Homo sapiens: one gene and its partner. Changing the gene in region 2 together with the main gene of any one other region gives a genetic interaction. Each region holds a gene or a part of one and is shown on either strand. Other genes may lie near its edges.

Evidence for each region.
Region 1: changes in DHX33 (region 2) and GBF1 together harm fitness more than expected from each alone (negative genetic interaction), as found in Homo sapiens cells (one study listed by BioGRID).

The regions. Positions count from the first base shown.
Region 1 is NC_000010.11:102,235,491-102,252,008, reverse strand, and holds the start of GBF1 (Golgi-specific brefeldin A-resistance guanine nucleotide exchange factor 1), read right to left. Parts: upstream 6,478-16,518; 5' UTR 6,228-6,477; exon of another isoform or gene 6,129-6,227; intron 1-6,128. UniProt on the Homo sapiens protein: Guanine-nucleotide exchange factor (GEF) for members of the Arf family of small GTPases involved in trafficking in the early secretory pathway; its GEF activity initiates the coating of nascent vesicles via the localized generation of activated ARFs through replacement of GDP with GTP.
Region 2 is NC_000017.11:5,438,958-5,455,213, forward strand, and holds the end of DHX33 (ATP-dependent RNA helicase DHX33), read right to left. Parts: coding exon 16,203-16,256; intron 15,024-16,202; coding exon 14,864-15,023; intron 14,712-14,863; coding exon 14,623-14,711; intron 11,978-14,622; coding exon 11,850-11,977; intron 11,450-11,849; coding exon 11,246-11,449; intron 9,939-11,245; coding exon 9,852-9,938; intron 5,557-9,851; coding exon 5,248-5,556; 3' UTR 1,960-5,247; downstream 1-1,959. Other genes in the region: C1QBP (complement component 1 Q subcomponent-binding protein, mitochondrial precursor), read right to left, coding at 1-116. UniProt on the Homo sapiens protein: Implicated in nucleolar organization, ribosome biogenesis, protein synthesis and cytoplasmic dsRNA sensing. Stimulates RNA polymerase I transcription of the 47S precursor rRNA.

The DNA of each region.
Region 1 (16,518 bases), on a different chromosome or scaffold from region 2:
CCATGTTGGCCAGGCTGGTCTCAAACTCCTGGTCTCAAACTCCTGACCTCAAGTGATCTGCCTGCCTCGGCCTCTCAAAGTGCTGGGATTATAGGCATGAACTACCATGCCCGGCCACCCACAGCACTTTGTAGTTATCTCTAAACATATCTTGGCTGGGGACAGTGGCTGATGTCTGTGATCCCAGCACTTTGGGAGGCCAAGGAGGGAGCATCAGTTGAGCCTAGAAGTTCAAGACCAGCTTAGGCAACATGGCGAGACCCTGTCTCTACAAAACATAAAGAAAAATTGGCCAGGTGTGGTGGCGCACACCTGTTGTCCCAGCTACTTGGGAGGCTAAGGCAGGAGGATCACTTGAGCCCAGGAGTTCCAGGTTGCCTTGCGGTATGATCGTGCCACTGTACTCCAGCCTGGGTGACAGAGTGAGACTCTGCCTCAAATAAATAAATGAAAATAAAAATAAACACATCTTATACTAATTTATAATTATTTATTTAGTGTATCACCACCATGGGACTATCAGGCTCTATCTCAGGGGGAAAGACCATGATTTATTTACCCTTTTATCTCCAAAGCCTGACACATAGTAAGAAAAATGATCAATAAATACTAGATGAACAAATGAAATAACATCAAGACTGACTCTTCAAGAGTGGTACAGCACACATCCACCTCATGAGAAAAATGACTTCATAGAAGACAATAACTCTGAGCCACACTGGCAAACCTTTTTTTGATAATATATATTTGCTTCTCTACCAGAAGTTACAAACCTTCCATACAGGTAAAAAGAACCCACATTTACCTACCAGCCATATCATAATGCTTCTTTTTTCACGTCTATCTTCCTGACATCTCCTTAAGTGTTATTTGCACATTCACATTTTTGTGAAATATATAATTTTTAATGTAACTGTCAATTCTTCATATATGCCTTATTTTCTTTGGCTCTAAATAGCTGTTTTTAGTACACTAGTGTTTAAGTGGTTTTTTTTTTTTTCTTAATCACTTTTATGGGGTTTGGTTTTGTGTTTGTTTGGTTGTTTGTTTTGAGACAGAGTTTCGCTCTTGTCGTCTAGGCTGGAGTGCAGTGGCGCAATCTCGGCTCACTGCAACCTCCACCTCCAGGGTTCAAGTGATTCTCCTGCCTCAGCCTCCCGAGTAGCTGGGATTACAGGCGCCCACAACCACGCCTAGCTAATTTTTATATTTTTAGTAGAGACAGCGTTTCACCATGTTGGCCAGGCTGGCCTTTAACTCCTGACCTCAGGTGATCTGCCTCCCTTGACTTCCCAAAGTGCTGGCATTACAGGCATGAGCTACCACGCCCGGCCTCTTAATCACTTTTAAACATTTCCTTGGCCAGGTGCAGTAGCTCTCATCTTTAATCCCAGCACTTTAGGAGGCCAAAGCAGGAGGAATGGTTGAGCTCAGGAGTCAGAGACCAGCCTAGGCAACATAAATTAAAAAAAAAAAAAAAAAAATTAGTGGGACATAGTGATACATGCCTGTAGTTCCAGCCACTAGGGAGCCTAAGGTAGGAGGATCAGTTGAGCCAAAAAAAATCAAGGCTGCAATGGGCTATGATGACACCACTGGACTCTGGGCAACATAGTAAAATCCTGTGTCTACAAAAAACACAAAAATCAGGCAGGCGTGGTGGCACGCACCTATAGTCCCAGCTACTCAGGAGGCTGAGATGGGAGGATCACTTCAGCCTGAGAGGCAAAGGTTGCAGTGAGCCGAGATCTCACACCACTGCATTCCAGCTTGGGTGGCAGAGAGAGACTCTGTCTCAAAAAAAAATTATTCTTATCCAACTAGCAAATAAATTCTCCAAAGGCAAAAGCGCAATTTTGTTTTTCTTTTTCATGATGCCTTTGTGTCTAATACAGAGCTGGGCAAACCAAGAAAAACTGATGGACTTTCTGAAAAGGTAGATGGTAGTAGGGAGCTAAAGGACCAGCAATAGGCCCTTCTAAGGTTTATGTTCACTCAATACCTTTAAAAGCCAGAGAAGGCTGGGCGCATTGGCTCACACCTATAATCCCAGCACTTTGGGAGGCCGAGGTGGGCGGATCACGAAGTCAAGAGTTCAAGACCAGCCTGGCCAATATGGTGAAACCACATCTCTATTAAAAATACAAAAATTAGCTGGGTGTGGTGGCGTGCACCTGTAGTCCCAGCTACTTGGGAGGCTAAGGCAGGAGAATTGCTTGAACCCAGGAGGCGGAGGTTGCAGTGAGCCAAGATCACACCACTGCACTCCAGCCTGGGCAACAGAGCAAGACTCCATCAGAGAAAAAAAAAAAAAAAGCCAGAGAAACACTAAAGATGCAGAGCTTTTAACATTTCCAGAGCTGGCCTAGGAACACATCATAGTTCTGTGCTTTATTGAGAATAACCAAAGTTACTAAACTAGGAAACAACTTACTGAGCTCAAGAAATTTACTTAAAGGGTGGAAGTAAAAGAAGGTTAAACTGGGAAAAAAGCTGGTGCCCTGACAATGCATCACTGGAAAATCCTCCCAGACCTGATAATCGGGTGACCAGGGTACCTCAGCTCTAGCATGCCATCTCCTCCCCCTGTGGAGATTCTGAGAGTATCTCAAAAACCGTTTACAAGGTAAGCTACTAATATGTCCAAAGCTGTCCCTTCTGCCAGCTTGGAGATGAAAAATAAAACAAACCTTCTCTATCTCACTCCATCTTTTAGCCACTCAGGGCACCCAAGGTACAAAGGTGACAGCTGGCAGAGTAGGACAAAGAAAAAAAGTCTATGTGATTATGTATAGAGAACTGCAGTGATTAAGTCTCATAAGGCCTGCCCATTTTGTTTATTGAGGGTCATCATCCAGTAACCATTGGGCAGAATCCAGTCCACAGACATATTTTCTTTGGCCTGAAAAAGGCTTAAAAATACTTTTAACTAGTTTCCAACAATTAGAAAACACAATGATCTAAATTTCCAGTTTCTCCTGAAAAATAGAAAGAGTGGTCATTCTGTGCCTGCACTCTAAAACAGTAACAATCTGCTGAAAAAGGAGCAGTTGGCTCTTCTAAATAAAGGAATGGGTTGAGCATGGTGGTTCATTCCTAAAATCCCAGCACTTTGGGAGGCAAAAGTGGGAGGACTGCTTGAGTCTAGGAGTTCGAAACCAGCCTGAGCAATACAGTGAGACCTTGTCTCTACAAAATATTAAAAAATTAGCTGGGCATGATGGCGCACATCTGTGTTCCCCGCTACTTGGGAGGCTGAGGTAGGAAGATCACTTGAGCCCAGAGGTCAAGGCTGCAGTGAGCTGTGATCGTTCCTCTGCACTCCAGCCGGGGTGACAGAGCAAGACCCTGTCTCAATAAAAAGAAATTAAAATTAAAGACAAAAAAAAAATAAAGGCATGGGTTGTCCAGTACACAACAGTCCCCACTAATCCTAATACATTCCCATGGGACTCAATTAACTCATTTACATTACCTGCCTGGCATTTAGGCACATGAGCTCGTAACCCCTGGTTTATATGATTGGCAAACCATTACTTTGCCATCATACTTCCATGATCATTTACACTACTATTGCATCTATCGTAATTTCCACTACTACTAGAACAAATAATCACTTCTATGATCACTTCTATTATTATTGGGGTTCCAAATCAGCACACTGCTTTATTATATTTTCATTTAGTTAAACAACTGCAGTTGAACATACTGAAATATTAAAAAAAAAAAAGAGTAACAGCTAAACAGCAGCTCATTATATTTACATAGCTCTTCTAGCCTGAGGATAAAATGTCAACAAAAACATACACCCTTAAATTCAATCCCACCATTAACCCAACAACAGAATCATTCTAATCAGTCACACAGAGCCACAGGGATATAGTGTGTGATCAATCAATGAGAAGTGTCATACAAAGATTAGGGTGATCCTTGCAGTGAGTACTCTATAAATAGAGTCTCCTCAAAAGCAAGAGCTGTGTCTTCTTCCTCTTTAGCTGCCCACAGCAGCCAGTCTAAGTACCCTATCAATGAGGTTATTATGTGAAAGTGGCAGTCATCCTGACTTCTGGAAAAGAGGGAAATAAAATAGTAGTGTAACTTTGAGAACTCTGAGCTGAAACTGGGATTGGTGCCCAGCTACTGAGGAGATATGTCTATAGCCTGAGTTCCCACTGTGCCAATGAGCATCACTGTCAAGACTGGAACATACTGTCTACAAACACCATTAAAAAGAAGCTCAAATACAAGCTTGGGACTTGTATTTGAAGGATGAATTTTCTGATTTGTGGGTAGGAGTGGGAATTATTCCTATCTAGAAAATTATTCCTATCTAGAAATGACATTTAGGATTAAAAAAAAGAAAGAGAGAGAAAGAGAAAACGTTTTGATGCCTCTATAGTCACCCTTAGGCTCAACTGAGGATGACTGGATCCTGGATTGATCACACTGCCTACCCAGAGACTAGATTGCCTGTTATGCAAAGCATATCAACTCAACAGGGCAATGGCCCAAGTGAGCAAGGCAGGATCATCAAACCTGGGTACCTCCTGAGGTATGTCATTTCATTTGCTGCGTTCAACTACTTTCTTGGGGGCGGGGAGAGGGGAGGAATTCTACAACTTAGATCAGCAAGTTAAAATGCAAATAGTTTCCTGTACCATTTCCATCTAAATCAACACAGGTGAAGCATAAATAATGCCATCCCCCTTCTCCCAACACACACAAAAATTTCAATTTCATAAGGACGAAGGTAGGAAGGGAAAAGGGAAATTATGAAATTTCAATTTCATAAGGACAAAGGTAGGAAAAATTGAGTTAGTCATTCCAAGATCCTAAATAGTTTTCTCTTCTGACACTATGAGGTTTTGATCCTCCTTGTTACTACCTCATCATGCAAAAGTGCAAAGTGTTCCTGACTGCCAGGGCCAAAAGCAGGCCACAAGTCCTGATCACATACTGAAACTAATCCCAGATAGAGATAACGTTTATTGAGTGCCCACTACATACCAAAAGGTATTAGGTTGATCCTGCTCTTAACCTACTACATGCTCTAGCTAGGCCACTGCACATACATGCTACTACTTTTAAGAAGTGCATTAACTGAGCAGTCCCAAAGCAGACCTTTCCATTTGTATCCTCCACAGGGCCTAGAGTGCCTTTTATACCTGAATTAATGCACAAGTTTCCACATTGTGCATTAAAAAACACCATCTACACTATTCCTTATTTCTAAAAGCATTCGTTACCCTTGGTGGACTTTTATAGCTTTACAACACAGCAGTTTATCAAAGGTCATCACAGTGCCATAAACTACTCTCTAGGGTTATGTTCCATCATTCACTCTGGGGCTCTGACCCTACAATTGGCTGAAAATCTCTCATGACTCTTTTTGCCCACTAAACATAATAGGCCGACAATACCAAACTTTGCCAGTATTCAAATATCTCTCTCTGCTGTCAGTCAAATATGTCATAATAGAGTGGTTTCCTTATGATTAAGCCTCATCTCCTTAGTGAAGATCTGAGAGAAAAATGTCAACAAAAACATACACTACAAAAGAATGCCTGTGAAAGATTGTATAAAGGAACAAACAGGCCCAGAAGATAAGTATAGTGTTTACATACAGACCCAGACTGGCAGCTGAGCTGTCCTGTAAGAGGGAAGCCTTCTCATAGCCCAGTTCCCTGCGCTGCTATAACCTCAAGCCTTCCACACGTCCCTCTGCTGACAACCTGATTCTAGGGTGCACTAGTTCATCATTATTAATGAAGCAGTTCCTTTGTATTAGTGAGGCAATCACAAAGAAGTAGACGCTGTACAGAATCTAGAGAGACTTTCACATCTAAAGTCTGAAAACCCATAAAAGTAGACACAATGCTCCTTAGGTTTGCTTTCAGCTTTTGAGTACTGGGCTCTTCAGGATGCAGAAAGCGCTGGAAAGGAGAAGCTAAATACTAGGTCAAGCCTGGGAAAACAGAAGATTTGGGCACCTGCAAAGGATCAGTAATGAGAGCAGAAATCGCCCCTCCTGCGGCAGAGGCATGACCTTTGCCCCTGCATACCTCCCTGTTCCCTCCCACAACAACCCTTCCCTCGTCTTATTCCTGTCCGCTGCGTCCTTAGCCCACCTTGGCTCGCCCAATTTAAGGGCCCTTCCCACTAATTCCCTATTGCGATGTCAGGGCGGCCTTCACGACACCGGAACTCTAGGAAGAGACTTCGCTGACCTGTCAGCGGATCCAAAATGGCGGGGCCTAGTCCCAGGACCGGCAGCCGCTGCTCATGTCCAGCCCGCACCCCGGAGGCGTCTCCGAGCAGCTCTCCCGGCTCTGGTAGCAGATGGGAGAAGAGAAGGAGCCTGTTTCCTGGAAATTGAGGCCGAAGTCAGGGTGGGACTGCACAGTCCGCCAGGATGAGTCGTCCGGGACGGGCAGTAGAGCCGGGTACCTTCCCTGTCAGCTCACTGACGTGGTAACTAGCCTCAGTCTAGCCCGCTGCCTGGTAACTGCGCGAGCCCTGCCGCGCGCAGCCAATCATAGCTTTGCACCGTGAAAAGTAGCATTCCGACTATCCAATCGAATAAAGGAAATTGGCTTCAGGAGGCGGGTAGTGCCTAAAGAAGCGCGATTACAAGGGAAAGAAAGGGTATGTTAGGGGACAACCAACGGATACGAGTACTCTCTGAGTGACAGTTTAAAAAACCAATAAAAAATGAGGAACTGGGCTGGGCGGCTAGAGAGGTGGAGTTAGGTAGAGTTCGGTTGCAGTGCGCGGTTTGGCAGTGGCTGCTGGGCATTATGGGGAAAAAGGCTACAATTGGCTGGAAAGGGGCGGGGTCCGCTTTGAGAACTTGAGCGGGCATCCCTACTCCCCTGTCCACGTATTATCAAAGTTACCTGGGCCAAGACCATGCCCCTTGAGGAATCACTCCTTTTCGAGGCAGCTCTGGGCTCCCTTCATTCTAAAAACAAGTCCAGCGATCTATTCCACACCCTGCTCTCCTCGCCCTCTTGTCCACCTTCCCTGTCGTGGCTTCTCACAGTTATGTCTGTCACGTCCCAACTCTGTTTCAGCGTCCTCTGCCCCACTCCCATCATCCAGAAATAGAGAAAATGGGACGTAGCAGAAGCCCTGGATATCTAATTTAAGTCTCTTCATTTTACATTATAGGAAACAGCCCCAGGGTGGAAGGCTGGGCCCATGTTCACATAATTAGTAAATAGCAGAGCAGAGAGACGAACCCCTGGGTCTCCTCACCCCCAGGCCAACTCTTTTCATCGCCTTTTGTCACCTCTTATGCCTTAGTATATCGGGCTTTGACTCCCGGTCTGCCTTTCATACCAAGCCTTTGACGGGCCTTATCCACCAGGCTAAATACGCAGCTTAGCCCACCTCATCAGTGATAGGAAACAGAAGTCTTTCTTGTTTGCCTTAGAAACGCTAAGGGGCCTGAGGGTTGGATGCCCACCTGTTTTCACTGTCTTGCCCCCAGCTGCCTCCTCCCCTTGCAAGAGATGATAGAGGTTACTAAGCTATTTAGAATTACCTGTATTACCTGGAAGTGAGAATGCGTGAGAAGAGGACAAGAGGATGGGTTTTCTCCTAGGAGACTGAATCATGAAATTCCCAGCCTATTTGGGACACTAGAGCCCCAGTGTCCCTGCAGACCTGGAGAAGCTGCTGGGAGGCAGTGAAAAAAAAATACCTAATTCTTTCCATACATCCTCCCAATTATGGACGACCCAAGTCCAGGGAAGCTCTATAACTAACCACATAGGAAAGTAGTCTCAAAACCAGACATCCAAAGACCATCCGTGTGCTACGATGCGCTATTTTTTTGTTTTGTTTTGTTTTTTTGTCTTTTGTTTGTTTGTTTGTTTTGAGAGAGTCTTGCTTTGTCATCCAGGATGGAGTGCAGTGCTGTGATCTTGGCTCACTGCAACCTCCACCTCCTGGGTTCAAGTGATTCTCCTGCCTCAGCCTCCCAAGTAGCTGGGATTACAGGCATCTGCCACCACACCAGGCTAATTTTTGTATTTTTAGTAGAGATGGGGTTTCACCATGTTGGACAGGCTGGTCTCGAACTCCTGACCTCAGGTGATCCACCCGCCTCAGCCTCCCAAAGTGTTGAGATTACAGGTGTGAGCCACCACACCTGGCCACGATGCTCTAGTGTAAAGCACCCATCAGATATCAGACGTGAAGAACCCCTCAGTAACTTCCTACACCTGCACATTGGGCTTCTGGTCGGTGGGTCCAGCTGAGGATCTAGCCTCTATCACCCAAAGAGAGTCAGGGAAAGAGGATATACCATCATAGCACCTCTTTCCACATTACCTCAAAGCCATTTTCCTCTTCATTTGAAAACTGAGAGTTGGTGTCCTGGGCCTGTCTCAGATTGAGAGGTCCTGGAAAGCCGATTGGAAAATCCTCTAAGTGGGCCAAAAATTTCTGCTCGCCAATATCTACTTCTACATACCTCCAGAAATTCATCATTCTAAAAGCATGTGATTGTGCAATAGAGATGGGGAGGAGAGAGATGACAATTCCCTAGTCCCTCCTAACCACTAATCATCATCTTACCAGGCAGAACATCTTCCTCATAGATTTCAGTGTGACATTTATTGAGATTCTACATTATGCCTGGGAATAACAGACATGGTCCTTACCCTCCTAAATTTTATTATCATAGCAGACAACACATAAGCTGATCCCTTCAATATGGTGGGTGGTGTAATAGAAGGTATACACTGAGGGTCATGAGAGCAAGGGGCTAAACTGAGAGTTCAGAAAAGGCTTCCCAGAGAAAATAAGACTTGAGTGGAACATTGGAGGAGTAGGAATTGACAATATAAAGATGGGTTACTTTCACAGGAAGGGCCAGAGGTGTGCAGGACACTACTAGGAAATTGGAGATGAAGACAAGGTCAGGTCCTGAAGGTCTTGTATGCCAGGCTAGGGAGCTTGACCTTTATCCTAAGGGCAATGGGAGTCACTGAACAGTCAAGACATGACTGCTCAGATTTGCCTTAGGGGCATATTGTGTGACTGGGCTTAGGCTCTTTTTTTTTTTTTTTTTTGAGACAGAGTCTTGCTCTGTCGCCCAGTCTGGAGTGCAGTGGCGCGATCTCAGCTCACTGCAAGCTCTGCCTCCTGGGTTCACGCCATTCTTCTTCCTCAGCCTCCCCAGTAGCTGAGACTACAGGCACCCGCCACCAAGCCCGGCTAATTTTTTGTATTTTTTAGTAGAGATGGGGTTTCACCGTGTTAGCCAGGGTGGTCTCAATCTCCTGACCTTGTGATCCGCCCGCCTCGGCCTCCCAAAGTGCTGGGATTACAGGCATGAGCCACAGTGTTTGGCCTGGGCTTAGGCTCTTCGGAGCACCCAAGCAACATAGCCTAACTGGGAGAAGAGAAGGAGCCTGTTTCCTGGAAATTGAGGCCTAAGTCAGAGAGGGCCGAAGTCACAGTCTGCCAGGATGTTCCTTGGTCATCTGTCCTGTCCCTTGCAAATTCCTAACCAGCAGGCACCAAGGCCACACCTTGCCCACAGGACTTAACCTGGTACCACCAGCGGGAAACCAGCCCTGCTGAAGGAGGGAGAGCACAGCCTAAGCAAGACAAGGGTACAGACTGAAAGGCAATGCCTTTGGAGTGCCCAGCCCAAGCCCTGAGATCCAGCAGGAACCTCCTCTTAATTGTTTTGCGCGGGGAGGGAGATGATAGTTACTCGTCCAAGTTCACTCAGTGATGGTGCAGTTCGTGGCAGCGTTGGAATACTACTTTGGTTTGTATCATTCCAAACCCTGCTGTCTCCACGAAGTCACCTTCCTTGGAGAAGAAGGGGGAAATGAAGAAGAGGAAAGATATGAGGAAAGAGGAGCAGAGAGAAAGAGAAATGAGTCTTTTAAAGTGGCAGAGGAAGGAGAATGGTAAACAGCAGGAGCGAAGCGGCTGAGGAGAAAGAAGAGGAAAGAAAGGCGAGACGTGGGAGGATTGGAACAGAGACAAAAGGGAGGAGAGACGGACAGCGACAAGTGGAGAAAATCGGCGAAACTTGAGTGGCAGAGAAGTCTGAGCGCTGAGACCCGGCGGCCCCGTGCGCCTTCCCACCTGGCGCCGATCCACTTTCCTCGGGGTAGCGGCCCAACCCACTTCGCTGCCAGCCGATCCCTTTTACCCGTGGCTACCGGGACCACTCTACTCTCGCCCACTTGGCTCTGCCTAAGCGTCCTAGCCGGAGCGCGGTCTCTGCCACGTGGGGAGGGGCGCGGCCGAGTTGCTGAAGAGCGCTTCTGATTGGCCAGAGGGCGGGGTTCTTGGCGTCTCGCCGGCCAGACCCCTCCCTCAAAGGCGGGGCCTGGAGATCCACAGCTGGAAAGGGCGGAGCCCCAGCAGGGCAGCTGGAAAGGGGCGGGGCCTGACGCGCGCGGCTCGCCGCGGCGGGCTGGGGGCGCCCTGGTCTGCCATAAAGTGAATGGGCGCCGGCTGGGGGTGGCAGTACGCGGTGAGGCTCACTCCCTCCGAGAGTCCAGGAGCGCCCGAGCGGAGAGGCGGCCCGGGAGCAGGGGGGCGGCCCCCACTCCGGCCGGGTGCCCGGCCCCTGGCCCCTGCCTGCCCTCTAGATCGCCGCCGCAGCCGCCGCTACTGGGAGTCTGCCTGTTGCAGGACGCACTGTGAGTGTTTGACCATTCTAAGGACAGGGGCTCATGGGGCCGAGGAGCTATTGCTGGACCTTGGAATCCCTAAAACGAGACCTGGGGCAGCTGAACTCCGGTGCCTTGGGAACAGGTCGAGAATGGGAGGGCGGACTGCAGACCTGGGGCCAGGACTTGGGAAAAGGGAAACTCAGGGTAAGAACCAGGGGATAGGGAAGGGGGAGACTCAGAGGATCCGGAACGAAGCCGGAGACTTGAAACCAGGATAGGGGCTTCGCGAGGCAGGGAGTAGGGAGTCTGGAAACCATTACCAGAAAGCGCCCTGGAATCCCAGGGCACGGGGCAGGCGGCCAGGGAGCGAAAGGGGTTACAGAGGCCCTGGCCAGCGGGGGAGCTGGCGGGGCGGCCCCCAGTGTGGGGGCAGTTGACGGCGCCCGATGCCCCTCGGCCTAGGCTCAGACTCCTGGGGCTGGGAGCCGGGGTGCGCCTGGTCGCACACGCTTCTCTTCCCAGCTGCTCCGCAGTTGGAATAGGAGCTGTGTTGTGAGAGCCCGGCCGCGACTGAGTCAGATGGCCGCTGTGCGGATCAGAGTGACCAGGCGGCGGGTATAGTGGATCTGGCTTGGGGTGTCTGGGCCCAGAAGGGTCCTGACTTGAGGCCGCCTCAGAATCGGACAGAATGTCCGCGGTGCATGGGGCTCGGAGCGGACAGAATGTCCGGGTAGCGAAGTGGGTCTCTCCGGAGCGGGAGTTGTGTCTGGCAGTGGCGGACAGAATGTCCCTGGCTGGGTGGCATGTCCGTCTACCCAGCAGCGCCTGCCCAGCTGCTGCGTGTGCGATGGGGTCGGCTGCGGTGGGTCACCTCAAATCCCAGCTCACACTTTGCAAACTTGTTTCAGCTCCTTCGGGCTGCGAAGCTGTGAGCAGGGAGCGAGAGTAAAGGCTACAACCTGGCCTTGGGGTGAGGTGGGCTGGGACACATGCCCCCTTCAATTCAGAATAGATCAGAGCATCACTCTGTACTTCCAGAATCCAAATTTGAGGACAGAAGGCCAATGAGGAGCCTGCTAGTGGGAATCAAGACCAGGAAAGGAAGGAATAGGTGACAAAAGGCAATGGGAAAACAGGAAGGAGCTGGGTACAAGCCCCTGGCAGCCTCAGTTGCCCCCTAATTCCAATACAATTAACCAGACACCCCCCAGACTCCTTGCTGGAGTATCAGGCGACCAATGGCTCCTTCCCTACAGTGGGCAGGAGCCCAGGCCAGAAGAGAAAACTACAGCCCCATTAGCAAAGCAAATCCTGTGGTCCTGTTTCCCTTTTTCTTCCTCAGCCCTACCAGTCCCAACACCACCCTGGTGGCTGAGCGGAGGTGGGAAGGAGGCTCATGGAATCCAGACTCTGGAGTCCAACAGGGGGCTATCTGGCCCTCTCAGTCTGGTTGGGAAGGATATCTTGGCCCTACCTAACAGCCGGGTTTACTTTCCCTGCAGCTGGGATACAGCCCTGACTCTGCTGGGCCCATACAGTGACCATCCACCCTGACCCCAATTCTAACCACAGCTCAATTATGCTGAAGAGGACAGAACAGGGAGAACGAGTCCATATAAGTGAGCAAGATAGCCCAGCTGGGGACTGAGTTTTCACAAGGACAAGTGCAAGGCATTGTATTTAGCAATGAGTAATCTAAACAGTGGTTTCAACCTTTCTTACCCTTCACCTGTGAGTGACATACAATACGTATTCCCCATACTCCCATGTCCATTCCTCAGTTCTAAAGTTTGCTTATTACTGGCTAGGATTCTCAACTTTTGTTTTTCATTTGCCCTATTTTGATCAATATAAAGACACACCACAATTATCCCCATCACATTCTGATACACTTTTCAGGGGCTTGTGCTCCCATTGCTGTGCTCCCATAAAATCACTGAAATTATAGGTGAAATGAAGGACTCTGTGTCAGGAAAGGAACAGGGAAAGCATTACAGATGGTTCCCTGAAGACTTTAGCTCAAAGTTGGCTTTTGCCAAAAAGGCCAAAGAGGTGGTATCATAATGAAGGTGATTGGAAACAAAAGACAGAACCTTTTCCCACCCTTGCATAAAGCCTTGTAACTGAACGCATGCCTGGTCACTGGCTCTTAGGAAGAATGTCATGGGCCTAGAGTAGGGTCAGAGAATGATTGGCAGAATGGGGAGCCAGGGGTTGCTGGTGAGGGCAAATTTCAAAGTTTAGTCCTCTGGAAGGTGAGACAGGATGGAAATCTACAGCATAATAAAAGACCTAGATATGCAGAAGAATTGCTTGCTCCCCAAATCTTGAAACTGGAGATGAGGGGGCCTTTTAGAACTGGAGTGATGCAAGCTCAGGATGAATAGAAAAATGTTCTTTGGCACACAGTGGGCAGCATACTTCCAGAGCTCATTTCCAGAGAGATGATAGAGGCAGGAAGTAGAAATGGAATCCTTCAGGGTTTGGAAGGATCAGCACATGTCAGAGTCACAAATGGCTACAGGGTGGAGGGAGTGAGGCATGGAAAGAGCAGAACTAGATGGTTTGAATCTCTTCAAATCTCTTCAAACTGTGTAACCTTGCATCCTGCCTTCTTAGAGGTGTAATGGGGATAGGCACTCCAGCCATGCAGGGCAGTTGTGCGAGTTAAATGAAATTATGTCTGTGAAGGCCCTCTGCAAATGGAGGAGCATCATATAAATAAGAAGCACTGCTATTATTATGCCCAAGCTGCAGAATCTTTGTTTGGAAAAGTGGGGCTGAGACTTAGAGCAGCCTAATCTCATCCCTGATGCAGCCATAGGAGGGATCTTAATGACAGACGGGCCACCCTATCGTGGACTTCAGATGCTGGCCACTACCCCTGCCGCTGTCTGAGAACTCTGGGGAGCTCCCCAAATGCTCAGCCTGTCTACCAGGCCAAATATCTCTGCCTGCCTCCTGCTCAGGGATGGGAACATTGGCCCAGGACTCAGGTTCAGGACGGGAGGGCAAACGCAGCAGGCTAGAGCTGACTTGTGGTGACTGAAGGATGGGGCCAGTAGAATCTTTTCTTCTCCATTCACACTAAATGATGCCTCCTAGACTAACCTGAAGGATCCATTAGGTCCTGAGCTTTGGGGTGTCTAGGGTGTCCATGGCCACTGCCAGGGACTCATGAAAAGAATGATGGGGAGGAAAAGGAAAAGATCATCAGTGGGGTAAGAGTTGGGGGAAGACAGAGAGGAATAACTTTCAAAACTCTATCTCTCCTTTCCCATTGTCCTGCCCCGGGGCCTTTTTTACACCTTTCAGTTAATAGTTTCTCCTTTCCTATTTCTTCCCTGCCCAACCCTTTATGCTCACCATGGTCAAATAAAGGTCACAAAGATGCTGTTTTTTGTCACACCCCTGGATACAAGCCTCCAGTGACCCCTACTGCTTGGTGCATTGCTTCTCATAGTGGGGTGGGCGGGGGAGGAGGGCAGTACGGGAGTGGAGGAGGCATGACACACAGTCTAAACAGGGCCCATCTTCCTGGTGTGGTGATATCACTTGAAGATTGGGGGGTTTTATATTAAAAAAAGCTTTATTTTTATATTAAAATATTTTATAATCCATGACTAAAGTATGGAATAGAACGAAAAATTTGTTTGCATTTTTAACATAAAGCTGGTGACCTCAAAACAATTTCATACTAGTGGCAGCTGTTTCAGGTCATGCTTCTGTTTTCTAGTAGATGTTGTTTTTGACTGGTCTTAGGGTTTTTTTCTTTATTCAGGGCTGTTGCTCAGTGTGAATCTTAGCGGTTTTTGATGAAAAAGCTGGACATACTGTAGCCTAGACTTTGTCAAATCTGAACCACTGCCCCTTGTCCCCCATTGGAGGCCCCCTCGGTTTGACTCGTTTCTCTCTGCAGATCTCCCGTGGCCTACACTGAGACTCTGACTAACCTAGGCTCACCACTGCCCTCCCAGCCTGCCAGCTTATTCCCAACACTGCTGATTATTTAGAATGCCATACCCCTTCTCTTCCTCTTGAACTCCCAATTCAGTCACGTGCCTATATTCTCTGAGCTCCCAACACTCGGTACCACCTTCCATGGGCTTCCCTCTCTCTGATCTCCCACAGTCTGGGAGTCAGACCCATGCGGTCCATCTTTCCATCCTGTGCTCTGTTTGCCTCCCTACACTGCAGACTCCTACAAGATAGGGTCTCTGCCTTACTGTTCTTGGGATCCCTCTTAACACCTAATACTTGCTGAAGGAAGGAAGCAAGGAAGAGCAGGAAGACTGTGGAGTCATTTCTCTGATCCCCGAATCGTCCCTTAATAACTTGAGTGCTTCAAATCTTTGCTGCAAATGTGTCTCGATTTGCTCCCATTTGCACACTGCAGTTCAGCAAACCATAGAGTCTGGGTGCTCAGCGTCCCTAATGAACATGCAGCCATGTCCACTTAAGGACCTCACTTCAGTTTCATGTTTATAAGATGAAAACATCACAACTCCAGCTCCTCTCATCTCTCCATTTAGCCCCTGAATGAGAAAGGTTTTCTCCTATTTGAGTTCCAGGTTATGCCTCCAGCCTCAGGCATTATTATTGCAACCGATTGTGGGCTCTCACTATGTCCCTGGTCTACCTCTCTGGCTTCAGGACTTAAGTGGGTCCACATGACAGCTGACTTATTGCCATGGGGTTGTGTCTCTTGGAAACCATGGCCTCCCCACTGTGGCCTCCCTGGCCTGGGATCTGCTCTCCACCTTCATATGTCCTGGATATTTCATTCTTGCTGCAGTCCATGACCAGGCTTCCTGTAATTCCAGCCTGTACTACAGAATCAGAGCATACCTGTAGGCCCTCTGTACTCCCTGGGCCTGGGATTGCCACCCTGATACCAGTGGGACTGGGCCACACATCCCTCACATCCCTAGCAGGGTGTGGCAAAAAGTCTAGGGGTGGGGCCGGCAGCCCCCTTCCAGAGCTGGACTCACCATCACTGTTATCTTCTGACTCTCTCTGTCCCTGCCTGGGCATTTCTTACTAGCATCAACCAATCCTGCGGCTTCCAGACCTACTGCTTGTTCTTCCCTATCCACTGAGTGAGGCGAAGTCCCTGGCCTCAGTCCCAACTCCCTAGCTTCCTGACCTCCAGCAGTTTGGGGGAGCTTAATCTTCAGCCAGCCTGTCTCCAGCTCAGACAACAGCTTGGCGCCCCCAGCCTTTGCCTGACCAGCCCACCCGGACGTGAGTCGGCTAGAGGTCTATGCCCCCACCCTTCCATCTCTCTATTGCCTGCCTGGCTTTACTGTTCTTTCCTTCTCTCTTCAGTTTCACGGTCAGGTCCCTTCTCAGCTGTGGCTCCTCTCTCTGCTGTTACTAGCCCATGCAAGAGCCTAAAGGCTTCATTCTTTCCTCTACCAGTCCCTTGTCCCCAAAGTGGCTCCCAGCTTGGGTTACTCTGCCCATTTTGCTGTTACCTTGTTGACTGGGTCACCTATGCTCAGGACAGAGTGTTCACAGCATGTGTTGCCTATCTCTCAGTAATGCAGCGTACTCACCTTCATTCACCAGGGAAACACTTCACTGGAGGATACAGAGTCTGGGCAGATGACTCACTCAAGGAAGGGCAGACACAGGGATGAGATCTTAGCCACCACTCCACCCTCAGTGCCTAACTCAATGCCCAGCTCATAGAATGTGCTAAATAAACATTTGTTTAATGAGTGAGGAAAAAAAACTACTCAGGTAGAGTTTTATCCCTACTCATATTTACATGTTTATGTTTTTATCTAAACCTTATAACAACACTGAAGGCAAGTAGGGAAGGGATCATGAACTTCCTTTCGGAGATGAAGAAATGTGCTCAGAG
Region 2 (16,256 bases):
CACAGCCGGGGTGCCGGCTGCAGGAGCTGCCGGAAAGGCGAGGCGGGCGCGGCAGCGCGGAGGCCGGCGACGGAGGAGCCCAGCACACGGGGCACGCAGCGCAGCAGAGGCAGCATCGCGGAAACGACTGCGAACACGTGCAGATGCAAAGGACAACCCAGGCCTAGGCGCCCCGCGACCTGAGGCGCCGCCGGAAGCCCCGCCCCTGCCCGGAAGCGCTTCCCGCGCCGGCGCTCTGACGACCTAAGGCCAGCGGGCGGAATCGCGCCCTCTGCTGGAGACTCCGGTGCAGCCCGGGAAGCCTCGAATCCGGATTCCGGAGCTTTCTTGCTGCGCTGCCGAGTCCGCTGTCCGAAGCTGTTTAATTCCCTCTAGTGGCCGCTTACCCACTTTCCACCTGCTGTTCTCAAAGCACGCAAGGCTTTTGGGCTGCGTGGAATGCACTCTTGTCTCCCGCCAGCTCTCACCAGACCCTTCCACGGTCACTTTCCTCTAGGAGGCTGTGGTGTTATGATATATATATGTATTGGTTTTCATCCACAGTTCCTGGGTCGTAACTCCTATAGCCCTTGTTACAATGTTCTGTGATAATGTTGGGTGTGTTAGGCCTCAGGAAACAGACTCTCCCCTTCTCCTGCCCTCCTTTTACCTGCCCCAAAGCAGGACTCTAATCTCCTTCCACATTTCTGATTATGGGTCTTAAGTCCCTTCCCAGAGAAGGTCCCACCATATACCCTGGGGGAAGGGATGCTGATGTCCAGAAGCTTCCATAAAAACCCAAGAGGAGAGGGTTTGCAGAGCCTCTGACAGCTGAATACGTAGAGGTTCCTGGAGGGTGGTGGCCCAGGGTAGGCAAGGAACCTCGGAGCTTCTTCCCCATTCCCCACCCTGCTCATCTCATCTGTATCCTTGGTCATATCCTTTATATGAAACCGGTGAATGTGTTTCCCTGAGTTCTGTGAACTGCTCCAGTGAGTTAACATAATCCAAAGAGGGGGGTCGTGGGAACCCCAACTTGAAGCGGGTTGGTCGGAAGTTTCAGAGGCCCAGACTTGCCATTGCTGTCTGAAGGTGGGGGCGGTCTTGGGGACTGAGCCCTCAACCTATGGGATCTGACACTATCTCCAGGTAGATACTGTTGGGATTGAATTGGAGGACACCCAGCTGGTGTCTGCTGCTTAGTGTGGAGGGGAAAAACCCAAACCTTTGGCCACATAAGTCTTCTGTGTTGATTGTTGTGTTGTGAGAGCAAAGGAAAGTCTGAGGGTTTTCCTGAAAGAGGCCTTCTAGAACCTTTTTTTCCACCGGCTCGGAACTCATGCTTGTGCGCACCCAGCCCATATGCTTCATTCTCTTTTCAACAGGAACCTCCTAGCGTTGCTGCTTTAACCAGGTTAAACCCAACCAGACTGTGACATCCTCAAGGGCAGGATCCATGATTAATTTTTGTGACCTTCCCTCTCTGCACCTCCAACCTTGCATCCAAGTTCTAATGGAACATCATTTTTCTGGGGACAAGAAGCCAGCTTATATCATTTAGATAAGTCCAGAGGCTTCCATAAAAACCCGAGGACAGGGTTTGGAGAGCCTCTGATAGCTAAATACATGGAGGTTCCTGGAGGGTGGTGGTCCAGGGACGGCATGGAGGCTGGGAGCTTCTTCCCCATTCCCCACCCTGCTCATCTCCTTATCTGTATCCTTGGTCATATCTTTTGTATGAAACCGGTAAATGTGTTTCCCTGAGTTCTGTGAGTTTCTCCAGTAAATTAATATAACCCAAAGACAGGGTTCAGATTTATTAAAAATCAACAATCCTACCTTCCCAGGATATACAGGACATATAAGCTACTAAGAAGGTATGTCTTACTAACTCATGGTAAGACTAACACTTAATATTTTCTAAATAATTTTCTATGAATAATGGAAAAGAGATGCAAGAAACAAGCCACACACATCATATACAAGATTCATTTTTAATGGATTTGATCGTCGGGTGCAAATTTGAGCATTATTTACAAGAGCTTTCTGTAGAGTTATTTCTGTTCAAATAAAACCAGACTCTCAAAATACAACATAAGCCTGAACCTACTTGATTTTTTTTTCTCCCTCTAGTTACCAAGGAATATCGTATCTCAGATGCATGGCCTACTATCACACTGGTCTTTAAAGAAAAAAAAAAATGCATGGCCACAGTTCCAGGCAGTTCCTGGTAGCTGGATTTAGTGGATTTATATATGACAGTACAGTACATCATCAGTTTCACCCACAGGGCAGAACTTGCCTCCATTCAGGCATCTCTTTACAACTGGCAGCAATGCAGCATTAAGGGTTTTTAGCCAGGACCTGCTGTTTGCAGTCCTGCCCCTTGTAGTGTTACTCTGGGTGTTGCACACTCCATGATTACTAGAAGACAAACACCTGAGGCATGCAATCTGCTTGGAGTGCATCTATTTACATGAAGCTGCTCACGGGAGCTGGTGATTCTTCCAGATATGGGTTTCGTAGGTTGGCAAAGAGTTATCACACCATCAGAGATTTTACCAATGGAAAGAGAGTAGCTGAAGATTATATTGCAATGTTATTGTGAAACATTTAACTTTCTTAAGTTTAAAGTGTACTATCTCCTGCAGCTCAATATAAACAACGATGTATTTCTTTGTAGCAGTATGTGGAGTCAGAATGGGTTTTCCAATCTGATTTAATCCCTGAGCAGCTATGTTAAAAGTTAACTTTTTAAAAAAGCCCAATAAAAAACTAAATACTGTATTAAAACTCTACCACAATGTTACAGGGATAAACTTATTTCTGTACAGAAACATTAAAGCTACTTAGAAGCTGTTTACATCCTTTGCCTCTCAGAAAAAAAATATACATTTCCGGAAACTGTTCAGGTACTTAAGCTGGACATAAATTACCCCAAGTTTTTTCTTTTTCTTTCTTTCTTTCTTTTTTTTTCTGAGACCGTCTCACACTGTCGGCCAGGCTGGAATGCAGTGGCGTGATCTTGGCTCACTACAAACTCTGCCTCCCAAGTTCAAGCAATTCTTGTGCCTCAGCCTCCCCGGTAGCTGGGATTACAGGCGTGTGCCACCATGCCCAGCTAAGTTTTCTATTTTTAGTAGAGACGGGGTTTTGCCATGTTGGCCAGGCTGGTCTTGAACTTCTCAAGCAATCCACCCACCTCAGCCTCCCATCCCAATGCTGGGATTACAGGCATGAGGTGATCCGCCCGCCTTGGCCTCCCAAAGTGCTGGGATTACAGGTGTGAGCCACTGCGCCCGGCCACCCCCCAATTTTTTTTTTTTTTTTTTTTTTTTTACCAGCACTATGAATGATTAAAAATACAATATTTTTCTTACTAAGTAGGACTAAACATTCTAATCCCCTACTGGAAAACAAAAAACAAAAAACAAAAACTGGAAAACTTTTCAGAAAGTCAGCAGTGGTAACAAGTCAGTAAGTGGAAGAACTGGTTCAAAGTTTAAGAATTCAGTAAGATAAGGTATATAGGAGCTGTCAGATCTTCTTTTGCCCACGTATAACCATTTCTGACAGACAGCCCTAAACACTAGCTGAGAGCTTGACTGCACAGGACCACGGCTAGTGTTGGAAATAAAGACTGAGCCGGACTTGACATACACAACTCCGGACAGATGGGACCCTGGAATGGGGCTGCTCCATCAGGCCACAGCTTCCAGAAAGAGAGCATCCATGATCTCTGAAGAGCCTCTTGGGCAGCTTGGCCCCTGGTTATAACTATGATTCATTCATTAAGAAATGACAAAACACCCCACAGATGTATTTGGACCAAGTAAGCACAATAAAAGAGCTAAATCACGGCTTCTTCTAGGGCAAAATATTATCTGGGGAAAGATTACTTGCTTCTGATAATTAAATAGCTAAGAGGAACCGTTAGTGCCTTTTCTCTGCTCAGAATATCAGAACAGGAACAGACTGTGGATATCCTCCAATTCCCTCTGACAATGAGGGTTAGAGAGAGGTGCCTAGCAGTTAGAAAGCAGCAAAGCCAGATTGTCCCAAGTCCCTACGAAGAAGGAAAAAATATCATAGAAAATTAATAAGATGCAAGAATAAGTGTTACAGCTCTAGCTCTTTTAGAATTTGTCCAGCAGGTCTTCTAGACTTCACTGAACTGCCCCCCACCCCCCCCGCCCACACACCAAAAAAGATACAAGAATGTAAGCCCAGATGTGGTGTGGTATCTGGCATAAGCCAATGTTCTCTGGGTTCTAGGTACCCCTCTCCCCTCCCCCACCCCCACCCCCTCTGACCAGGGGACTGCCCGAAAAGAAACAGCTGAAATGGTACACAGTCACTCCTCATGCCCGCATGTTCACTGGTGCCCAGTTAGAGAGAAAAATGGCAACTGTGTATGTGGGAGTCACCTACACACACAAAACACTGATAGGTCAGTTTCCCATGTCTACACGTGACAGGATTCAGAAGGTACAAATCAACCTTCACCCAGGAAGCTTACATGTCTCCTGAAAGCACTGACAGGGTCACGCACTGAGGACCAGGAGGCTCCTTTACTGGTCTCTGCTTGGAGACAGACACAGAGTGGTCCACCCTGAGACACAAGCGTTCAGTAGGGATCGCCATCCCAGGAGGTACGAGATAACAGCACCTCCCTCTGGAAACTTCTACAGAAGTCAGTTTTGTTTTCTATTTTAAAACTGCATTCAGAGAGACATTAAACAAGAACTAAGGGCAACATCCAAGCTCCGCAACCTCCTGTGGCCCTTCCAGAAAATCTCCCTCAGTCACAAGAACTTGGGATATTGCTGTACTTCACATCATATGGCAAGCAGTAACATTCAGCCTAACGGCTCCCAACTCACTGTACGTGTGTCGTGCGTGCTCCAGGCATAGTTCTGGGTACTTTCCATTCCTTTTCTCTAAACTTTATGAACCCAATTTTATAAGGATTATTATTATTACTCCCATTTGGCAGATGAGAAAACTGAGGCTCAGGTGTTAAATTAAGTCAAAGTCACCCAGTAAGAACCAAAAGCATAATTTTGAGGTTTCCAGGTACAAATGATATGTCCATGTCTATATGGTTCAGTCCCAGGAGTTGAGCAAAGATGCTTTCACGCTCCTGGAAGTCAGGCACCTTCAGCTGATTCCAAGGCTTCTCTAAGCGCCAACCTGGAAGCCTGCTGTAAGGACAACTGTAGTCCAAGCTCCCAGGGACCAGTGATTCTGGCGGCATCCTGGGGCGGCTCAGTTTCTGGCGGTTCTCAGCTTCCTCCTAAAGTACTCAGGGGCAGCCTCGTACAGCCACTGTGCATCTATGACGCAGAGGTCCCGCATGTAGCACTTGTTGGTGTAGAGCAGCTCAGTGTACACGACGCAGGCCGGCTTGCAGTGGAAGAGGACAGACGACGGGTGGATGGCCACTGGCTGGTGGGTGTCCGTGGTGGCATAGGTGCCATCTGGCTGAAGCTCGGCGGTGCTCATGAAGAGGCTGTGAGCCAGGCAGCGGCGGACACTCTCCACGTCTCCTCGGGATGATGCGATTGGCATTGACATCTGTTTCGGGAGAAAGCGAGGAATGGAGCCGACCCCACACGTAAACACTGGTCAGCACTACACAGCGTGTTGGGGCAACTGGACCCACTGGGGCAAAAGCAGCCCACATTGTGAGCCTAACGATGTGGATTCTGACATTCGGAGGTGGTCACCAAGGATCAGCAAGGTCAGGGGAAGAAGGCCCAGCTGGAGGAGCACGGACCAGAAACAGGGAAACTACCGCCTGTGAAGGTAGGGCTGGGAGGGAGGTGCTCACATTAGCCACCAGACCACAGGCAGGTTGGGTGACCCACCCCTCACCTAAATTCCATCAGGACGGCCCGGAAAGGAAAGGCCCTTCCCTCTCGCTTTGACCATCTCACCATCTCCTCACTCCGATTCACCCACCTGCTGCTGCCAAGCTAATCTACCTAAAGCACAACTCGAATCACTCTTCATCCACTCAAATACCTTCAACAATGTCTCTACTGCTCCTTGCAAAACAATGCAAACTTCCCGTGGTGAAGCCACGAAGGAGCCACCCTGAGCTGCTCGCCTGTCTTTCCTCTCACCGCTCTTTTTCTTTCTTTCTTTTTTTTTTTTTGAGGCTGAGTCTCCCTCTGTCACCCAGGCTGGAGTGCAATGGCGCAATCTCAGCTCATTGCAACCTCCACCTCCCAGGTTCAAGCTATTCTCCTGCCCTAGCCTCCCAAGTAGCTGGGATTACAGGCGCCTGCCACCACGCCTGGCTAATTTTTGTATTTTTAGTAGAAACGGGGTTTCACCATTTTGGTCAGGCTGGTCTTGAACTCCTGACCTCAAGTGATCTGCCCGCCTTGGCCTCCCAAAGTGCTGGGATTACAGGCGTGAGCCACCGCGCCCGGCCTCACCACTCTTCTTTAGACACTCCATGGTCCCCCATAGCTGGCTGCCTTCTCTTTCCTCGCCCCGTTTCATGATTCCTATCTGTGCCTTCACATTTGCTACTCTTAGTAGAAATGCTGCCTGTCTCATCAGAGGAAATGTCAGTCACCAGTCAATGTCCTTGTTCTACTGCTCTTGATGAGTGGGGCATGTAACCTACGCCCCTGGGCACAGATGAACAAACCAGTGGTACACACACGCTGGACCTAAGCTGGCCAGCTTTTCTCTTCCAGGCATCTTTTAGGTTTGAAACTGGAAAACTTGTCAATCTCTGCTGGGCTCTTGAGTGGAGGGGCCATGCAGAGAAATCACTTCCATGCGGAGGTAAAGGTGAGAAAAGGGAAGGAGGCACGCAGAGGGCACTCAAAGCAAGAGAAGCAGCAGGTCCAGAGAAAGTGGCGGGCCTGGCTCCTGCAGGCTTTTTCTGGTTCCTGTGACTCTATTTCCTGCCTATCGGTTCTCAGAGATACCTTTCCATCCTTGGAAGAATCTTTATTTTGTCCTTTATGATGGCTCTAGGGTTTCTGTTGTTGACAATCAGCTGATCTATGCCTGAAGAAGATACTTTTTTTTAAGAGACAGGGTCTCACTCTGTTGCCCAGGCTGGAGTGCAGTGGCACAATCCCAGCTCGCTGGCAACCTCTGCCTCCTGGGTTCAAGCGATTTTTGTGCCTCAGCCTCCTGAGTAGCTGGGGTTATAGGCATGCACCACCACGCTCAGCTTAGTTTTGTATTTTTAGCAGAGATGGGGTTTCACCATGTTGGTCAGGCTGATTTCGAACTCTTGGCCTCAAGCAATCCACCTGCTTGGGCCTCCCAAAGTGCTGGGACTAGAGGCATAAGCCAGCCACCACACCTGGCCTGGAAGATACTCTTTTATCTCCTTATCTGTCAAGATCTAGCTCAGTTGTCACCACCTCCAAGAAGCCCCAGAGGCTAACTGGTGGTCTCTCCTTCCAGACTATCAGCTTTACCACTCACTGGCTGAGTGATTTGGGGCAAATTATTTAACCTGATTAGGCTTAGTTTCATCATTTGTAAAATGGGAATAACAAAAGAATCAATCTTATAGGTTGAAATGAGGATTTTATCCTTTGGGTTAAGGTCTGAGTTGAAAAAGAAAAAAAAAGAAATGAGGAGTTTAAATAAGGCAGCCACATAAAAAGTACTCAGAACAGTGCTGAACAAACACTTCATGAATGATAGTGATTATTTTAATTTGATGGCCTCCTGGCATGAGTGTATGTACGTCAGGTCACCATCTAGATTATTACTTAGTTACTGAGTAGGCATGTCTGTAAAGTCTCAGGACCTTACCAGTGCCTGACATATAATGAGAGGTATCCCTGGCCACTACAGGGTCCTAAATTCACAACTAATAGAGAAGCACCGTTTCTACTGTCAATGATAAATTGAGAAAACTTATGAAGCCAAGAGACAGACTGGCAGGAAACTGTTCAAATACAAAAGCAGTTTAAAAAAATGTGTGAAAGACAGAATACAATAGGCTACTATGAGAAGAAACAGCTCTAGTGCCAACCGTAGGCCGTTGGCATCAGACACAGGCCTGGGTACAGGCTGTGACTGTCTCCCAGCAGCGTCCGCACTGAGGGGGCACAAGACATTCACCACAGAGTACTCAGGACAGCAGCAAACACACGGACACTGTCTCAGTGATCAACAGCAAAAGAACACTTCCGCTACCCTCTATCTCTGACATAAAATGTGGAGTGTCATGCGAGCATTAAATATACCATGACAGCTCTTTAAAACACCATGTACTCTAAGAGGGAATAAAAAGCTAATATAAAACTTTGTGGGCCGGGCACAGTGGCTCACACCTGGAACCCCAGCACTTTGGGAGGCCAAGGCCAGTGGATCGCCTGAGGTCAGGAGTTCGAGACCAGCCTGGCCAACATAGTGAAACCCCGTCTCTACTAAAAATACAAAAAATTAGGCCGGGCGTGGTGGCTCACGCCTGTAATCCCAGCACTTTGGGAGGCCAAAACCATCCTGGCTAACATGGTGAAACCTCGTCTCTACTAAAAATACAAAATATTAGCCGGGTGTGGTGGGTCATGCCTGTAGTCCCAGCTACTCGGGAGGCTGAGGCAGGAGAATTGCTTGAACACGGGAGGCAGAGGTTGTGGTGAGCCAAGATCGCGCCACTGCACTCCAGCCTGGGCAACAAGAGCAAAACTCCGTCTCAAAAAAAAAGAAAGGAAAAAAAACACTTTGCGGTGGACACTTTGGCAATATCTAACAAAATCCAAATTCCCCCATCTAGAAATTCATTCTGTGTGCACCACAGCACATACGGAGGATGGTCACTACAACAGAATCTAAATGACCATTATTAGAGGCTTAAATAAACTGCACTGAATACAATGAAATGCTATGAAATCACTAAAATGAATGAGCTAGACACATGCAGCACTGAAAGCCCAGCCACAGGAAGGATTTGAGAAATACGCATGTGAGGCCAGGCACAGTGGCTCACACCTGGAATCCCAGCACTTCGGGAGGCCGAGGCGGGCAAATCACCTGAGGTCAGGAGTTCGAGACCAGTCTGGCCAACGTGGTGAAACCCCGTCTCTACTAAAAATACAAAAATTAGCCAGGCGTGGTGACGCACGCCTGTAATCCCAGCTACTCGGGAGGCTGAGGCAGGAGAATCACCTGAACTCGGGAGGCAGAGGTTGCAGTGAGCGGAGGCTGTGGTGAGCCAAGATGGTACCACTGCACTCCAGCCTGGGTGACAGAGCAAGACTCTGTCTCAAATAATAAACAAGAAAGAAAGAAAGAAAGAAATATGCCATGTGGAAGAAAGGAAGTTGTGGAACATGTACCTCATATGCACGTATCCGTTATGTGTGTGCTCACACACAGGCACAGAGACATGCACAAAAACATACATACACAGAAACAAATTCTAGAAGGAGCTACCCCAAACTGTTAACAGTAGTTATCTCTGGAGGGGCAGGATTATGGGAGACTTTTAAACTTTCTACATTATAAATCACTATTTTCTGCATTGTGTCAAATACTATACACAACTTTGGTAATCTAAAAGGAAATAATGCAGATATTCATACTTAAAAAAAATCTTATGAAGAATTCTAACACTGGAAAATGCTTATAAAGATTATAAAACCAAATATAAATTATACATATAATTTACTATGTAAAAAAATACAATAAAAACTAGGCTATTAGGAAATAGGCTAAACTACTGAATTGTGGAATTGTGGGTAACTTCCTTTTTTCTTATTTGTGAAATTTGCTACAATGAGAAATCCTTTTATAATCACTAGCAATAAGCAACTTCAAAATTTCTACCTTGAACAAAGTGACAGCTTTGTCACCCACAGAACACTAGGACCAGACGATACCTTTAAGCAGATGTCCCTCAGCTGTGCTCTGACTTCTGCTACCAGCGTCATATTCTTGCTGTTGACAAAATTCTCTTTGCACCAATCCTGAATAGGAGAAAGAGTGATATCACAATCCACTCATTCACCATTTATATGTTCACAGAGACGGGGTCTTGCTCTGTTCCCTAGGCTGGAGTGCAGTGATACAATCATAGCTCACTGCAAACCAATCCTCCCACCTCAGCCTCCCAGATAGCTTGAACTATCTGCACATGCCACCATGCCCAGCTAACAATCCTCTCATCTCTATAGAGAAAATATAACAACATTTTTAGAACACAGTTGAATTCAGAGAAAAAACTTCAGGTGCCAAAAAGAAACGTAGGAAAATATCTTTATATCAAAAAACATGAACTATAAGAAAAGTGTTAATAATTTAAACTAAAGAAAAACTTGAAGTTTCCCAGATTGGGATATTTGTCTCATCATACCCAATAAATGATTAGAATCTCTAGAATTGATTTTAAAAGTTCTACAAGTCATTAAGAAAAAGACCAACGACCCAGTAGAAAAATGGACAAAGGATATGAACAGACACAGAAAACAAAACAGAAATGCCCAGTCAATTTATGTAAGACTTCTTTCTTTTTTCTTTTTTTGGAGATAGATAGAGTCTCGCTCTGTCACCTAGGCTGGAGTGCAGTGGCACGATCTCGGCTCACTGCAACCTCTGCCTCCCAGGTTCAAATGATTCTCATGCCTCAGCCTCCCGAGTAGCTGGGATTACAGGTATGCACAACCACGCCCGGCTAATTCTTGTATTTTTAGTAGAGACGGGGTTTTGCCATGTTGGCCAGGCTGGTCTGGAAGTCCTGGGCTCAAGTGATCCACCTGCCCTGGCTTCCCAAAGTGCTGGGATTACAAGCTTGAGACACTGTGCCTGGCCCTGGGCAAGTTTTTCAACTGCACGAAGCTTCGTTTCCATGACTACATGTTTCATGAATATAAAAAATAATAATTATAGTGCTCATTTCTTAGGATTACTTTACTGAATAAATGAGATCTTACATTAAGAAGTGCTTAGCATGGGGCTTGGCACAGAGTAAGTACTCATTCATTGGTACGCACTATCATTATTAGACATATTACTTAATCAAGTTCCAATTAAGTTTTGATGGGTTGGGAGTCACTTAAGTCTTGTTGACTTAAACACATTCGGAACAGAGACCAGAATGACACTGCTTCGGTACTGAAGCATTTCTGAAATGCTGTCTGGCTTTCTTTTTGTGATTCTTTAGATAATTTAGCCAAAAAGGGAAAGCGTACTTTTTGCACGGCTTCAGTAGAAAAAGGGAAGCACATAGCAGAGACAAGCAGCTATCGCTGGAGAACAGGTGCAAGACAAGGCTCACCTTATTTCCGCCTAGGTTTTTGAAGGTCCGATAGATATTGAGCAGGGTCATGTGATCCCCCTCGCTGGATATGAACTTCTTGCGGACCCCTTGCACTTCCTCTCGCCGGGAAGGAGGGTTGTGGAGGACGCTGTCCACAGACAGCAGGGAGACAATGGTCAGGATCTCCTCTGTACAGTGGAATTTGGGGGACATGAGGATGGTCTGCAAAGCAAAATTTAAAATTGTGTAAACCCAGCTTTCTCCTAGCTTTAGAATGCACTATTTCTGTACATTGCTTTTGCAGTTTCCCTTCTAAGGAGTTAAAGGGCAGGTATTTCTAAAACCATGGCGATGTACATTAGTGTTATTTCACTCTTTAATATTCAATAAAACAGGTGACTGCCTTCCCTACAGAGTTCCAAATTTCTTGTGGGTAGGGGCTCTTAACTTCATCTCTTTGAATCCCACACTGAACATGAATCAGGGCTATTTGCAAACTAGGGGTTGGTAATTATGTAAGAGAAAAAGTGAGATTAATCTAGAAGCACTGGGTAGATGGTACTACTTTGGGACGGTTAACTGTAATGTACAGAAAGAGGACTGAGGAGAGGGTATCATTTACTTTGGCAAATTTGGGTTCTAAAGGAAATGCTGCCATCTTTCTTCCCATTGGAGTCAGGGTAAGCTGGTCATCCTTATGTTCAAGAGCACCTAACAGGTCCAGTTGGGCAATGGCCGCCTGAATGTGATCTAAAGAAACAGAGACATAAAAAGGAGCCAAAAGTCCAAAAAAATGAAGTTGCAGCTAGTTCAGTATTTCTGGGAGCTTCTGATAATTCTACATCAAACAACAGCAAAAATCATAACCGCCACTGCCCCCTTGACACACTTGTCAAAGAACGACATCACTGTCTTTAGTTCAATTCCCTTTTCTTTTTTGAGACAGAGTCTTGCTCTGTTGCCCACACTGAAGTGCAATGGCGTGATCTCGGCTCATTGCAGCCTCTGCCTCCTGGGTTCCAGCGATTCTCCTGCCTCAGCCTCCCCTATAGCTGGGACCACAGGCGCCCACCACCGCGCCCAGCTAATTTTTGTATTTTTAGTGAGACGGGGTTTCACCATGTTAGCCAGGCTGGTCTCAAACTCTTGACCTCAGGTGATCTGCCCACCTTGACCTCCCAAAGTGCTAGGATTACAGGTGTGAGCCACCATGCCCAGCCTCAATTTTCTTTTTAAATGACCTGTAATTTGGCAATATGTATGTAGATTTTGAATATACACATTAAAAGTGTAACATCTGACCCAGCAATGTTACACTTACGAATTTCACCTGCAGATACACATCGCACAGAGACCATATCGCCAGAACCAAACACATAACAGTGGAAATAGCAGTTGTCTCAGGGGCCAGCTGGGGAGGCTGGGAGACAAGGGGATGAGAAGGACATTATTACTATTTACTATTTTATATATTTTAAACTTTGAACCATGTAAATATAGTACCTATTAAAGAATAAAAAAGCATTTCTAAGGATGTAGTAAATATATACATCCCAATAAGGAGTGATCTGTAAAATGTATTAAATGAAAAAAAGCAGTGTGTTTCTCATTGCTTTTTTAAAGCAATATTTATCAACTGAAGGATGGATAAATGCATTTTGGTTTATTCACAGAATGGAATAGCACTTAGTGTGAAAAAGCATCAGCACAAATATACTATACGGAACAAGCTGAATGAAAACCGCTTACTCAAGAATAACTAACATAAACTTACAAACAACAGGTGGTTTAGGGATACATACGCATATAGTAAAACAGTGAAGAAAAGCAAGGCAATTACAAACAAAATATGGAAGAGTGGGTACCCCAAAAGAGTGGAAGGAGGCGAGGGCAAGTGGGTGGGGGGGACTCCTGGGGGCTTCAATTGGGTACACAGGTGTTAGATTTTAACCATTCCTTACACCTTATGTATCTTCTTCATTTGTATGTAAGAATTTAGCAATGAAAGAAAAAAAATCAAGCACAGAACAATACTCAATGTGTGTTGCTATTTGTGTTTTAAAACATACTACAGGCTGGGCGTGGTGGCTCACGCCTGTAATCCCAGCACTTTGGGAGACCGAGGTGGGCGGACCACCTAGGTCAGGAGTTCAAGACCAGCCTGGTCAACATAGTGAAACTCCATCTATACTAAAAAATACAAAAATTAGCCGGGCATGGTGGTGCACACCTGTAGTCCTAGCTACTCGGGAGGCTGAGGCAGGAGAATCACCTGAACCCGGCAGGTGGAGGTTGCAGTGAGCTGGGATCGCACCACTGCACTCCAGCCTGGGCAACAGAGTGAGACCCTGTCTCAAAACAAAAACAAAAACAAAAACATACTACAGCAGGGGCTTGGTGGCTCACACCTGTAGTCCCAGCTACTTGGGAAGCTGATGTGGGAGAATCACCTGAGCCCGGGAGGTTGAGGCTGCAGTGTGCTGAGAATGTGCCACTGCACTCCAGCCTGGACAACCAGAGTGAGACCCTGTCTCAAAAATAAATAAATAAATACATAAATAAAATCAAACACACTACATATACTCATATATGCATACATTTGCTCTAGAAGTCTACTAGAAAATGGTTCCAGTGGTTGTTCTAGGGGAAGGAAACTGTGAACCTGAGGATCAGGGCAGGACCCTTGTATACCCATCAACTGGTGACTTTGTGTTTTCTTTCCTTCTTTTTTAAACCAATTGCATTTCTTAAGAAAAGGGGGGGCAATAAAAAGAAAAGGAAAATGGTGCGTTGATGAGAGGCCAGGTGCCAAAGCCAATATCATAAATATTTCCAATTATTTTCTTCTTCTGTAGAGAAATTACTAATGAACAGGAGAGATGGATCAAATTCCAGTTAAAGGCAAAGAAATGTGATCTTTGCAGTCCCTGTGCTGATAAAAGTACAATTTCATTACATTTCTGTAGTATCCCAAGGACTCGCATGATGACCTTCACTGGTTCCAGAGGTCAAGGAACTTTATTGATGGTGCTGATAGTACAGAATCTATCGTTTCATAGCTAGGAACACTGGCGCATGCCTGTGGTCCCAGCTACTTGGGAGGCTGAGGCGGGGGGATCGCTGGAGCCCAGGAGTTGGAGGCTGTGATGGAGCCTGTGAATAGTCACTGCACCTCCACCTGGGCCACACAGTGAGACCCTGTCTCTTTAAAAGTCAATCAATGTATCTATCTATCATTTCATGATTTTCAGATGCTTCTCTAATAACTAATGTTGTCATCCACAAAATTAAATAAACAAAAGGAGATGACCAATATACTTTATTTTTTTGGAAGTGTCCATTTGTTGTTGTTTGTCTCCTCACCCACCTTCTGCAAAACTGTGGATTTCACTTACCTGGAGATGGCTTCGACATGAAGTCAAAGGTGAGCACATTTGGGACTTTCATTGCTAGAAGCTGAAGCATCACACTGGCCAGGTTACACCTGTGAAGAGCATGAGACCAGGGTCATGACCTGATCCCTCTGCCATTGAGTCAGAACCCCTCATGGTGGAGTGTGAGTAAAAACTGCAGCTCTGGGCAAGCAGGAGAGACATGGTGACAAACAGCAGCAGTGCAGGAGCAACTGGTGCCTACCTCTGGATCTCTGGCACGGTCATCTTATCAAACTTCTCAAACTCGTCCTCCGTGTAGAGCCGGTAGCAGATGCCACTGTCCTCTCTGCCAGCCCTCCCTGTGCGCTGCCAAGCCTGCGTCTTCGATACCCGCTGCACTGCTAACACCTCAAGACCACTGTCTGGATGGAGAGTGAGCCCCATTAGTGCTTCATCACATGAACAAACTCTTTCTACAGTGTCGATAAAAAGAAGCACACCAGTGGTTCTTTCAGCAACACGGGGGTCCAGAAAGCCTCAAGGCTAGCACAATGGACAGCACAAAACCAGACTGCTCCGCAGCGGTTTGGCCCTAGTGAAACAAGGCTTTGCCATAAGCCCACTGTGAAATCTGTTACAAAAACATCAGAAAAACCTCACGCATGCAGCAAGGGGCGAGAAGAGTAGTTTCCGAGGTCTTGCCTTAGATGGTAGGATGGCCAACCCCTCCAGTTTGCTTGGGACAGAGGGTTTCCTGGGATGTCGGATTTTGGGTGCTAAAACTGGGAGTTTCAGCAAACTAGGATGGGGGTCATACTATCAATCAATGACTACGAAATTAAATGCCTCAAATCACTTGTGTGCTTTATCCTCCCTCCCAGTTCTGCTGTAAGACAGAAATAATGTGATGTCTGTTTTCTAGCAGTAAATGAGGTTCATTTTCTTGATAAAGGTGTATCATTAGCCTGGCACTGGAGACCCAAGCTCTTTCACCTACGTCATCACAAAAAGATACACCTGTGGAAGCCAGGACCCTCAAATGTTTACTAGAGCATTTCAGTTCAATAATTGGGAGCAATAATTTCAGTGGTCTCAAATCCTCTGTGGAATAAAGCAAAGTATAAAACAGACATGAGTCAAGATGACCTTAAGTTAGCTTCTCACTGCACCTTCTTAGGAGAAGCCAGTGCTCCTTCCATGCCTCACCTCAGCCAGGAGATCTGGTTCCTTCCTGAGAAACCTGGGAGCTCAAACCAGCCATATATATATAGTTTCTGATGACACCCTTTGATTGACACCCAGCTGTCCCTGGCCTTAGAGCCGACTTCTGATGGGGTACCAGACCCTCTGCCCAGGTCCCTGACCCTGTGTGCCCAAGTTTGCTCAACCTGGGCTCTTCTTTCCTGCCTCTACTTCCTGTCTCACATACCCGCCTCAGGACTCCTTCGCGGACCTGGAGTGTAGGTGATCTCACTCATGGCGCCTGCCACCTGAATTTGTTAGTTACAAACATGAAACACTCAGGGGAAAACTGTGGGACTACAGTTTCAGTGGCTGCTCACTAGACACAGGAGAGACATTCATGAACTACAAATTCTCACCAGGGTTATACTTCTTTGCTTTAACCATGCCCGTGTCAACTACATATTTTATTC